Homo sapiens: one gene and its partners. The protein of the gene in region 1 purifies or fractionates together with the protein of each later gene. This does not show direct contact. Each region holds a gene or a part of one and is shown on either strand. Other genes may lie near its edges.

What was found. The genes of interacting proteins can lie anywhere in the genome.
Region 2: the proteins of MAP4K5 (region 1) and PTER purify together in Homo sapiens (affinity purification with mass spectrometry, with the first as the bait; one large-scale study listed by BioGRID). This does not show direct contact.
Region 3: the proteins of MAP4K5 (region 1) and RTL1 purify together in Homo sapiens (affinity purification with mass spectrometry, with the first as the bait; one large-scale study listed by BioGRID). This does not show direct contact.

Annotation. Positions count from the first base shown.
Region 1 is NC_000014.9:50,522,557-50,526,196, forward strand, and holds part of MAP4K5 (mitogen-activated protein kinase kinase kinase kinase 5), read right to left. Parts: intron 1-3,640. UniProt on the Homo sapiens protein: May play a role in the response to environmental stress. Appears to act upstream of the JUN N-terminal pathway.
Region 2 is NC_000010.11:16,506,370-16,510,009, reverse strand, and holds part of PTER (N-acetyltaurine hydrolase), read right to left. Parts: intron 1-3,640. UniProt on the Homo sapiens protein: N-acetyltaurine hydrolase that regulates feeding by catalyzing the hydrolysis of N-acetyltaurine into taurine and acetate. N-acetyltaurine has anorexigenic and anti-obesity effects that are dependent on GFRAL receptor and GDF15.
Region 3 is NC_000014.9:100,900,923-100,905,347, forward strand, and holds the start of RTL1 (retrotransposon-like protein 1), read right to left. Parts: upstream 2,801-4,425; 5' UTR 2,683-2,800; intron 2,465-2,682; 5' UTR 2,369-2,464; intron 1-2,368. UniProt on the Homo sapiens protein: Plays an essential role in capillaries endothelial cells for the maintenance of feto-maternal interface and for development of the placenta.

The sequences.
Region 1 (3,640 bases):
CGCAGTGACCTTATACAACATTTAACATAACATTTATTTAATAAGAAATATAATTTAAAGTTTTTGAAGGACAATCCTTCCTCTCTTATTTTCTACTGTTAAGCTATTTTTCCAAGTTATTCACTCTCTCACTCAAATATGAAAACCAAGAGTCTCTCATAATGTCAGACACAGGACACAAAAAGGACAGTATATTCATATAGTTCAGCTGTGTTACTATCAAAAAATAAGAAAGTAGGTGATGTTTTGATATCAAATGTCAGAGAAATAACATCACATACATCTATTTTTTATTACCTTCAGATTTTTAGGCATTGGACTAGACTCTTAATATTTAAAGATCAAAGTATACTGGTGGAGAGAAGACATAAGAAACAGCTACATTTTCTTTGCTTACAAATTCATGCTTAAAAAAATAACATAAGACTTGGTAACCTACAACCAACTGCTGAACTTAATTAAAAATCACAATGGGCTGGGCGCAGTGGCTCACACCTGTAATCCCAGCACTTTGGGAGGCTGAGGCGGGTGGATCACCTGAGGTCGGGAGTTCGAGACCAGCCTGACCAACATGGAGACATCCCATCTCTACTAAAAATACAAAATTAGCCGGGCGTGGTGGCCCATGCCTGTAATCCCAGCTACTAGGGAGGCTGAGGCAGGAGAATCGCTTGAACCTGGGAGGTGGAGGTTGCGGTGAGCTGAGATCACACCATTGCACTCCAGCCTGGGCAACAAGAGCGAAACTCTGTCTCAAAAAAAAAAATCATAAATAAATAAAAATCACAATGACCTGTGGTCCTGCACCAGTCAATAAGGCATGGTGATGGCCATGCTTGTGTCTTAGATAATATGCCTGCCCCTAAGCTTAGAATTCAGCTACAGACACAGGTTCCGGTGACTCAATAAGAAAGAGATTTAAGACTTCCTTTGATTACCCAGTTATCCACTTGGTTAACTCCCTAATGCCCTTCAAGTCTGTTCAAATCTAACCTTTTCAATGAGGCCTACCCTGACCATCCTTATATAATTCCCCAACCTGCCTTCTTCACTCCATTCAGGCATTCCTGATCCTCCTTAACCATTCAACCTTTTCTTCTTTCTATACCTTTAATCTCCTTGTAACGTATTATACAATGTGTTTATTATGTTTGTTGTCTCTCTCCCCCCACTAAAATTTGAGTTCCATGAGGGGAGGAATCTTTGTCCGCTTTGTTCACTAGATGTATCACAAGGCACCACAACAGTGTCTGCCCCATAGGAGGCCTTCTATAAGTATTTGTTGAATGTTAAATACTCCTTTGCATCCTGTCCTCCCAGTTCTCCATCCCAGCTCCCATTCATTAACATGCCTCACTCTAACCATGCTCGCAGTGGAACAACTAGGACTGGAAATAAACAAACAAGGCTCCAGATCAGAAAGGGAGGGAGGTTTTTACATTTATCCCCTACTCTAGTCCCTAAAAATCCATCCTATGTTTTTTCCTTTTATCTGCTTTCTGAATTCTCAATTCCTCCCAAATTCTTTGTCTTGATTTCCTTCTCTGTAGAATTCCATCTCTAAACTCAGCAATCGTCTTAGACACTTGGGTGATACGACAAACTTAAAGAATGGTAACTGAATGCTGTAATCACTCAGTCTTGATGAAAGTAAAACCCTGAAACAAGAAGAAACATTTGTGTGCCTCATTTCTCTTTCCTGTCATAGCTAAGCTGCTTCAGAGAGCAGGCTACATTCCCTCTACTTCCTCACTTACCAATCATACCTCAACTCTACTCTTAATGAACCCTTCCAACTCCTTGCTTACATGACCACTATGCTGCTTACTCCTTCAAGGCATATTTATTGACCACATACTATATACTAGGCAATATACTAGTACAGGTGTTTCAACAGTAAACATAAGATCTCTGTTCTCATGCAGTTTTAGTCTACCAGGAAGACAAGCAAAAATGAGAAGTGATAAATGATGAGTATCATGATAAAAAATGTACATGGAGCTTTGAAAACATACAGCTGCTAGGTGTGACCTACTCTAAGGGACAGAAAAGCCCCCCCACCGAGAAATGTAATGTTTAAACAGAAACCCAAAGAGTAGGCGATAAGATGGAAGAGAAAGAGTGTTCTAAAGGAATACCTGCAAAAATCTGAAAGACAGAGAGTAGAGTGCATATAAAGAACTGAAAGTTCAGTATGGATACGGTATTGGGATAAGCAGGGCCTTAACAGGAATATTATTCTAAGACTTTATTCTACAGACAAAGGAAATAAAGGAGAAATGACACAAAACTTCAGATTTATATTTTTTGGAGAATGAATTCATCTTCCTCATTGCAGTTAGAGCAAACAGGAACAAGAATGGAGGCAGCTGATGATAGAGATCATCTCTTGAAACTTTTCGTTCCTATGAAAAGAACTTCCTCATACCGCTTTGTTTCTTCTCAGACACCTTCAATATATTATTTTTCTCTGCCACCCCTCTAAGGCTACAGCCTTTCCTCAGCTCTCCTACAAACTCTCCTGGGTGACCTCACCTATATTTCACAGGTACCACCCCATAAAGTGATGATGACTCCCAAACCTGTATCCCCAGTCCAGAACTCTCAAGGCCAGAGGTGCATTTCCTACCACCTACCAGACACATTCACCTATGCAATGCCTTATGTTCAAAACCAAACACAAAATCCAGACTCCACATATTTGGTATTTCCTAACTCTGTTGATAGCATCAATGTAGTCACTCAAGCCAGAAATTCTAAATGCCATCAATTACCCTTCTCCTCCTGCCCCTCACCGATTACCAGGTGTTTTTGATCATCTTCTAAATATGACTCAAATCCATCCCTTCCTTTCATCTTCTATACCAGGGCCTAAATTTAGTCTTGCATAAACTCTCATCCGGATTATTCGGGAACTGGTCTCTACATTTCTAGCCACTTTGTAAAATCCTTACACTACACTGTAAGATATTTCCTCCTAAAAAGTGTTTCTCTAGTCCGGGCACAGTGTACTCACACCCTAAAATCCCAGCACTTTGGGAGGCAGAGGTGGATGGATTGCTTGAGCCTCCGAGTTCAAGACCAGCCTGGGCAACATGGCGAAACCCCACCTTTACAAAAAAATAAAATAAAATACAGAAATTAACTGGGCATGGCAGTGTGTGCCAGTCCCAGCTACTCAGGAGGCTGAAGTGGGAGGATCACTTGAGCCTGGGAGGCGGAGGGTCTAGTGAGCTGAGATCATGCCACTACACTGCAGCCTAAGTGAAAAAGTAAGACCCTGTCTCAAAAAAATAAAAATAAATAATTGAAAAGGTCCAAATTCTTTGATATGACACATGGAGTCCATTAGCTGGTGTTTCCTGCCAGAAAATAGCCTCTATTCTCCATCTATAAAATAATAAAAATAAATAATTGAAATGACATCTCTGCCAGATGTCACACTGAACCTGGAATGAATACAGATGCAGATCTCTCAAAACTCATCACGGCTTCTCAAGCCTCCAGGTGTTTGCACATACTATACCCAAAGCCTGGAATATCTTTTCCTATCTTCTCTACCTAGAAACCACTGGTCTTCTTTTAAAAATCCAGTTAATGTTCCTTCCTCTGTTAATCTTCCTTGGTTCACACTCCTCTC
Region 2 (3,640 bases), on another chromosome or scaffold:
AAGCATTTCTTGGTGTCCTAGTACATGAGTCATATTTAATAACTACTACAGTGAGCAAAACGTGGGGTACTACACACACAAAAAAAACTCAAGCACAAAGCCCTGCCCTCTGAGAACACATATTTTAAAATAAATTATAATGGAAGAATAGACTTTGTATCTGCAGGTCAAAGGAATGCAAGCACTAGCAGAGAAGAACCATGCCTGTCCTATAAGTGCATGTAATGACTTTTGTGCCACTATGATTTTTTGCCTCATTGAAATTTGTATACTATCCTGAAGTTCTGATCTGCAGTTACTTTTGGAACACACTCAGTTTAGGGGAATTATCTAAGATAAGTTATATTATCACATAAAAAGACAAAGATTTGACAGAATGCACACACAATACTGAAGCTTAGGGTGACAAACCTTGATCCACAACTGCAAAGAAGTATCACGGTATAGGAGGTTTTAGGAAACACTTTCTCCCTGATATTTTCTGGGCATTTTCCAAAATTTTTGCCTATGTTTCTTATCTGATAAATATAATTTCTCACACTATAAAGGCAGATCATGTGGATAAACAAATTCCTTTAAGATGTCCTTTGTCAGACCTTGAAACACAATGTTATCAAATCATGAAGTAGAATGAAAGAGTATAGAGGACAAGATACTCATACTTAAAACCGGGAATCCTTAGAACCCATTAAGTCAAGAATCTGGAGACTACTTATGAGAAAGATAACGTTATGGCTCTGGACACACAATCATATCCTGACTATGAAGAAAACCTGCCCCGTCCTGCTTACACTAAAAGATCATCTCTCCTGTTGTGCCATTATATGGAAGAACAGGAGTTACAGAGATGCTGCCAGAAAAGGGGGAGCCACTACAGACGAGAAGACAAAAAATCACGGTAATTATAGAAATACAAATGAGTTAGTGTTTGCAAACAAATATTAGAGAGAGACTACAAAGTGTGAAAAGGCAGAGATATAATAAGATTTGAGAAATGGAGCAGAAGATTGAAAACAGGTGTTAGACACAGAATTTCTGGTGCTGAACACCAGAGGTAGGCAGAAGCGTGCTTCTGTGTTCATGCACTTCAAGGTTTAAGACTACGATGGCTCAGAAAAGGACCCTGTGGTCCTTTCATGCATGATGAAAATCAAGTGTGCAAGACAGTGGGTACTGGAGCACACGCAACCCAAAAGGGCATTCAGTGCTTAACATGGGCTGTCCTTGGGTCAAGCGAGAATGCATGGTTTAATTTAAGGAAGATTAAGCACACACACATACACGTACGTATGGAATAGCACACAGGTATTTTATATATATATACACAGATTTATATTATAATAATTTTTATTATTTCCATACATCCAGAATAGCTATATTTAGCACAGTAAAGGGTAAACAAATGGCTAAAAGGAGCTAAGAAGGAATGCTGGGGGAGCCATCGGTCATCTGACCCTTCTATCTCCTTCACAGATGCCCCTTTACGGATCTTCTTTCTCTTGTTCTAGAAGGTCTGGGAGCCTCATGCGAGACACAGGTGTGCAAAAGATGCACCTCACTACCACAAAGGGGCTTCGGAAAAGGAAGCCGATCCAGAGTGCAAAGTTCCCATTTCCAAGATGATTTAGAAAACATGTGTTGAGGCCGGGCGCGGTGGCTCACACATGTAATCCCAGCACTTTAGGAGGCCGAGGCGGGCGGATCACGAGGTCAGGAGATCAAGACCATCCTGGCTAACACGGTGAAACCCCGTCTCTACTAAAAATACAAAAAATTAGCCGGGCGTGGTGGCGGGTGCCTGTAGTCCCAGCTACTCGGGAGGCTGAGGTAGGAGAATGGCGTGAACCTGGGAGGCAGAGCTTGCAGTGAGGTGAGATTGCGCCACTGCGCTCCTGCCTGGGCGACAGAGCAAGTCTCCATCTCAAAAAAAAAAAAAAAAGAAAAAGAAAAAAAGAAAAAAGAAATAAAACATATGTTGAGGGCATTGATCAGGAAATCATGTTTTTGAGATTGTGAAAGATGAGAATGACTGAATGCACTGCACTATTTTAAATTCCAGATGCCCTTAGGCAAGGAATAGTCTCCTCTGAGTATAAACTAACTACTAGGGCTTTAGGGGAACAGGTTCACCTGTATTGAATCGGGTTCCTGGGCAAGTAAATTAAAATAATAAAACAAAAATAAACAAAGAAACAATACATCTACTTGTCAAATAACTGATCTGAGTATTAAAAGACAGAACTTCATTGGTCAAGACAGGTGAAGTCATTTGCTCATGTAGAGTTGAGAGTTGCCATCTTACTTAACTAATGCAACACTGATTAACTAGCTTTCCCTAATGATACTAAACTTGAAGCATAGTACTATTAATGAGGTGATCAAGGCAGAATGCCAGTACTTGGAGACAGCAGAAGGCATACAGACGTAAATGTGACTTCCCAGGGAAAGATCCTCAGGATGTCCCAACTATGACCACTGGCTCAAGATCTTCCCCTCAACCCAGTGTGCCTTATTCAACTAGCAATACTTGAATCTCATGGTTCCTGGACATCACTTCTCAATTCCAGCTTTGCTACTTCCACGGCAACCACTTTTCTGTTCTCATAATTATATTCTAGTTCTTGTTATCATAGGGAACTACTGCTCCCCCTCTGAAATCTCCATCTTCAGTTTCCCACTCCGATCATGTTACATTTTTCTACTTTTTCCACTCACTTCTTCTACTGTGTATATATATACACACACACATATATATATACACATACACATACAGTATATATATTTGAACATATATATATATATATATATGCTCCACCCACTTCATTAAAGCCTGCAGTCCACTTATTTGCCCTGCTATGCTTTTCCTGTCTATCTGACCATTCCTCTCTATGCTTTCTTCCCTCCAACTTGGATCCCATGACCCTCATCTCAACTCCTCCATTGTTATCCATCTCTTTCAGATAGAATCCCAACCCTCAATCTCTTGAACTGTTCCCATTTTCTGCTTGTACGCACACAACTTCTCTGGTTCCACTACCAAAACGCAAAACAGTTTTGCTTTGGAAAATAATCACCAAATCGTGTGCATTGGTGCCAATACACAGGCATGCAATCATGATTTCTAGACTCAACTAGGTCTCGCACATAACACATCCATGTCAAGATCTCTCTCATTGACCTGACAGCCATTCCTAGCCTTTCTCCTGCTCTACACAGTGCTGCCCTAAATCCACTCTTTTTTTCTCAGGAGATAACCATGTCCACCTCACAGAGACACTAGAGGACATGTGGCCATGTGTCCTCAGTCTCCTGTTTCCCTCACTAAGACTTCTGTTTGCATTCACCCCATCGCTGTGTCATGCCCTCTCATTTCCATGGAGAAAGCATCCTTTCAACCGACTTTCTATTTGTTCCCCAGATTCCATCTATTTGTTGCCTTAGGAACCTTGCTCTATATTTCTTATCTATCCAGAGTTTTTAAAGTCAACATCTATTGAACACTTCCATATTCTGCACCAGACACTCAGACAAAAACTTGGAAAACATTATTTCATGTCAATTCTATAGTAACCCTGTGGAATGGGCACCACTTCCCTGGACTCATTCTCTCTGGCTCTGTCTCTGCTTTTGCTCTTAAGTC
Region 3 (4,425 bases), about 50 Mb from region 1:
CAACAAAAACAGAGGCTCCCGAGAAACAAACAGTTTTTCCCGAAGGGCTTGCAGTGCCTAACTGAGCTGCCAGGGCCGTCTGTCTGTCTGTTAGCCAGGAAGGCAAACCAGCCTGCGCACTCCACCTGCAACACGATGCTGCCCCCCCACGGCGGGTCGGAGCAGCTGTGGCGACCCCAGGGCTGACAGATTGGGTTGTCAGGAGCAGGACAATGAGGCTGCAGTGAGGATGGGCTCCATCCTTGAATGACTCTGCCCTCCTTGAAATTTTTCTGCTCCATGGAGGTGCATCTCTGCCCCCGAGGACCTTGGGCATTTCACAGACAAGGAGCCCTGGCTGGCCTCGCAGCCATCCCCCATATGCACACACGCACACGCACAGACATGCGCGCACACACACATGCTGAGTGCCTGCACTGGGAGCATAAGGCAGAAAACTCCTTTGGAAACTGCAGAACAGAGCCTTGTCTAGCAGAGGTCCCCTGATAAAGGTCCCACAGTTCCTGGGAACTGAACCCCTGTGAATGGGCCAGGAGAGGCAGCTCCCGACTCCCGTGTGGGCTGCATTCATCAGCAGGCCGGCACCCCAGCCCTGTCACTGTGTGAGGAGCTTTCATGAGTCCACTGAACATGTAAGTCACAGTCTGGCAGCTGGCTGCATCTGTGGTTGCTGCTCAGCCTCCAGAAAAGGGCCCCTCAACCTGCCAGACCTCCTCGCTCCTTCCACTCACTCTGCCAGCCTGTTGCCCCAGAGAGGACACAGGCCAGCCTCTGTGGGCTCAGGAGCCAGGGCAGGTGCTTGGCCACTCTAGGTGTTCTGGCCCTCAAGAGGGGAGTTGGCAGCAGGACAGTCCCCACCTCCCCCCACCAGCCCTGGGCACTCAACCCCATTCTCTGCTCCTCTCCCTCATTGCCTTATTGGGACAGAGGCACCCCGCCAACCATCTCTGTGCCTTTGCCATTTAGCCCAGGGCAAGCTACTCGGGAGAGGCCAAATGGCCTCATACTGACCCCTGCCTGGTCCCCTCTGGCCACCTCGCTCACTTGCCCGCTTGCCTGCTCAGGAGTTGGTGCTGTGGGAGCTTCTCAAAGGCCTAAACATGTGGGCTGCCAGCCTGGGCAGGAAACCGTGCTGCAGCCTTCTCAGCCAAGCACTGGCCTGCCTCTCTCCCCTCGGATGCCTCCTGTAACAGGGAGCTCCCTCTCTCCCCAGGCAGCCTGCTCAGGGCTCGCACGCAGAGCTGCTTTGCTGAGCCCTCCCCTGCCTTTTGCATCTGCCTCCTCGGCTGTGCAGCAGCCCCCTTGCCCCCTCTGCCCTCCGATCTCTGCAGGCTGTGGGCTCCCTCTCTTTTCAGTCCTCTCCTTTCTGTGCTGAATGGCAATACCCCCACCAATGGTGGGAACAGGATTGGGCGCCTCTACACCTGTCCTAACACCTCTGTCTCTGTTCTTTTAGACCTGGGACAGAGCCCTTTGCCCTGCTGTTCTGCTAAAAGCCCAGGGGAGGGCGTGGTGCTCCCCTCCTGGGGCCAGCTGCTCCATGTCTATCTGTTGAGCGGCTTCTCAGCCCTCTTGGGTTTTCTATGGCCCCTTTTCCAGTTGCTAGGGAGAACGCTCTGTATGCAGCCCCCTGCCTTTTCTGCAGGAGCTGCTGGCCTCCCGGCCAGCCCTGGTCAGCCCTGCAGTAGCAGCAGCAGCAGCAGCAGCAGCAGTAGGCAGCCACAGCAGGGCTGGGGGCTCCCGAGCCAGGCAGACCGGCTTGACTCCCTGCTCTCTAGCTGCAAGACAATTCCCTTTACTTTTCAGACTCGGCTTTTCCCCTGTGAAATGGAGATGAGAGTTTCTCCGTCACTGGCGTGAAGTGAGGACTAAATGAGATAAGTGTAGGCTTGCACACATCAGACACTTCATAAATGCTTGTGGAGTAGACGGTGGGACCCAGGGAGGGAGAGAGAGGTATGTAACAAGTGTCGCAAGAGAGAAAACAGCCTGGCCTTTCAAGACCCTGCTCCCAATACAAACGGGAACCTCTCCTGGCAGAGTCCCCTCTGCTGGCTTAATCGCACAAATCAAGTCAGCCGGAGGCAGCCCCCGGCCTGTGGAACTCACAGTAGATGCAGCAGGCAGCATAAATGACATGCAGAGCCCACATCTGCATTTAATAGACCGAGAATTTGCATTGTATATAACAGCACGAGGGGTAAAGCATGAAGGCATAAAGGAACAGTTTTTCCCGGCGGCTTCCTTGAAGGGCCAGCTTAGACAGGGGTCTGGGGAGGAGAAACTCAGCGGGGTCCGGGCATCCCATAGACTATGGGACAGACATCCATCCATGCACTCATTCTCCAAGCCACCACAGTGTACCTACCTTCCCCGGGCCCAGTCCCAAGCGTGAGGCTGGGGATGAAGTGATGCCGGTGGCTTAGTGATGCCGGTGGCTTCCTGTCCTCGAAGCTCAGTCGGTCTGGTGGGGGAAACAAACAGGGAATAAGACACTGGAAATTGAGGTGATCAAGAGGGGGTGCAGGCATGGAGATTTATGGAGCCCCGTCTTGGAGCCAAGTCCCGAACTGGGCTGTCTGCAAAGAACTCACCCGGGCAATAACCCTGCACACTGGTCTCATGAGCCCCATTAGATTGATGAGGAAACTGAGGCACAGAAAGGCAAAGTCCTATACTCACCGTCTCTCAGCTGGTGTGAGGCTGGGCCAGGATGGAACCCCAGACTCTCCGAGGCTCCCCACCACACCCTGCTGCTGAAGGCTGCTCAGCGAGGCTGTGCCGAGTGCTGGGGGGGTGTGGGTGGGCAGGGGACGGATTGATTAGTTATAAGCACCTCCCAGCGGTGCTTGAGATCCCAGCTCCTCTGTGGCCCAATCCGTTTGAAGGGCAGATTCAAAATTAGGTGGTAGCACCTATGGGCAGAGGCTTATGAAAATGGCATTATTAACCTGATGTGGAGAGGGCCCTGCCTGTCTGCAAGTAGATTGCAGATAGAGACGGAGGGGGCTGGGCTTGTTTGTGTGGACAGTGAGTTAGAGAGGACAGAGAACATCCAGGGGCCCTCCAGGGCTTCCGGACGGGGAGAACCAGATCTGGAGGGGCTGGACAAGTGGGAGGGGGAAGAGGGGTACGTCTTAAGGGTGCCCCGGCACCTCAGGGAAATGCCCCAGGCTGGACTTGGAGGAGGATCTCCAGCCTTGACTCTGACACAGACAGGGACTATGGCCCTCCCCGCACCTCGGTTTCCCATCTGTGAGATAAGAGATGGAAACCAAACGTCATTTCGAGAAAAGCCCCCATTCCCACCACCCTCCTGGCCCCCCCCTTCCCCCACCACCCCAATCACGTTTGCCAGACACCTGTCTGCTTGTCAGAGCAATATTCAACAGGAGAGTTCCTTCGCTTCCTCCCTGGAGGGAGAAGGGAGAGGTGTGGACGGGGAGAGGGGAGGGGAGAGGTGCCCCCCACTCAGAGAGGCCGCTGAGCAGAGTTCTGCATCGGGTAGGAGTTGGGCCACCGAAGATTTGTGCCAACTCACGGTGCGGTGGAATCAGACAGTCTGAATTCTTCAGACACCAGCCAAGAGTCTGTGGCGCCCCCACGTGCCACAAGGGGGCTGCCTGGGCCACATTTCTGAGCCCGAAAAGTGAGGAGGGGGACAGTCAAGAGGGACCGGCGCTTTTGCTCTGGCAGCGGCGCTTTTAACTGCGACAGATGCGTGCGGTGCGGCGGGGGAGCCGGCCGTGCCGGGGCTGGGGGCTGCTGGGCGGGGGTGGTCGGGGCGGGGGGCGGGGGCTGCAGGTTGCGCCCCTCCCTCACAGACGGCTGCGCTGCAATGCAGCAGGCTGCGGGAGCTGTCCCGGGAGCTGTCCTGTCCGGTGGCCGGCTTTCCAAAGTGGGGAACGAGAGATGAGGGAGGGAGCACTTCCAGGCGCTGCGTGGTGGCCAGGCGCCCAGGAAGCCGAGGGGCCCGAGACTCTGCAGCGGGGCCAGAAAGAGAAGAGTGGGGGAGGAGGCCGGGAGTGGTGCATGGACCAGGGGGTAGAGGGAGGTGGGTGTGGACCTGGGGTCGGGCGCCAGTCAGCTTGCAGCCTATGAAGGACGGAAAGGAGGGCTACAGAGATAGGGGAAGAGTGGGGCTGAGGATAGCCAGAGCGGCTTGGCACACAGTTTTAGGGTAAAAGCATCAACTCTTATCTTTCCAAAAGAAATAAAAAAGCCAAAAAAAAAAAAAAAGGCATTTGAAAGCTAGACAGCTGAATCCTTCCCAGCATGACTGAGCCGGTCACTCCAGGGTCTTCCTTCAAAGCGTGTCTAATGGGAGACAGCGTTGTCCCAGTAACCAAATTGGGACCAGAGTCCCAGGGAAGGGCTCATCAGGTGGCCGCTCTGCCTTGAAGAGTGGTACCCTCAGGCCCTTTT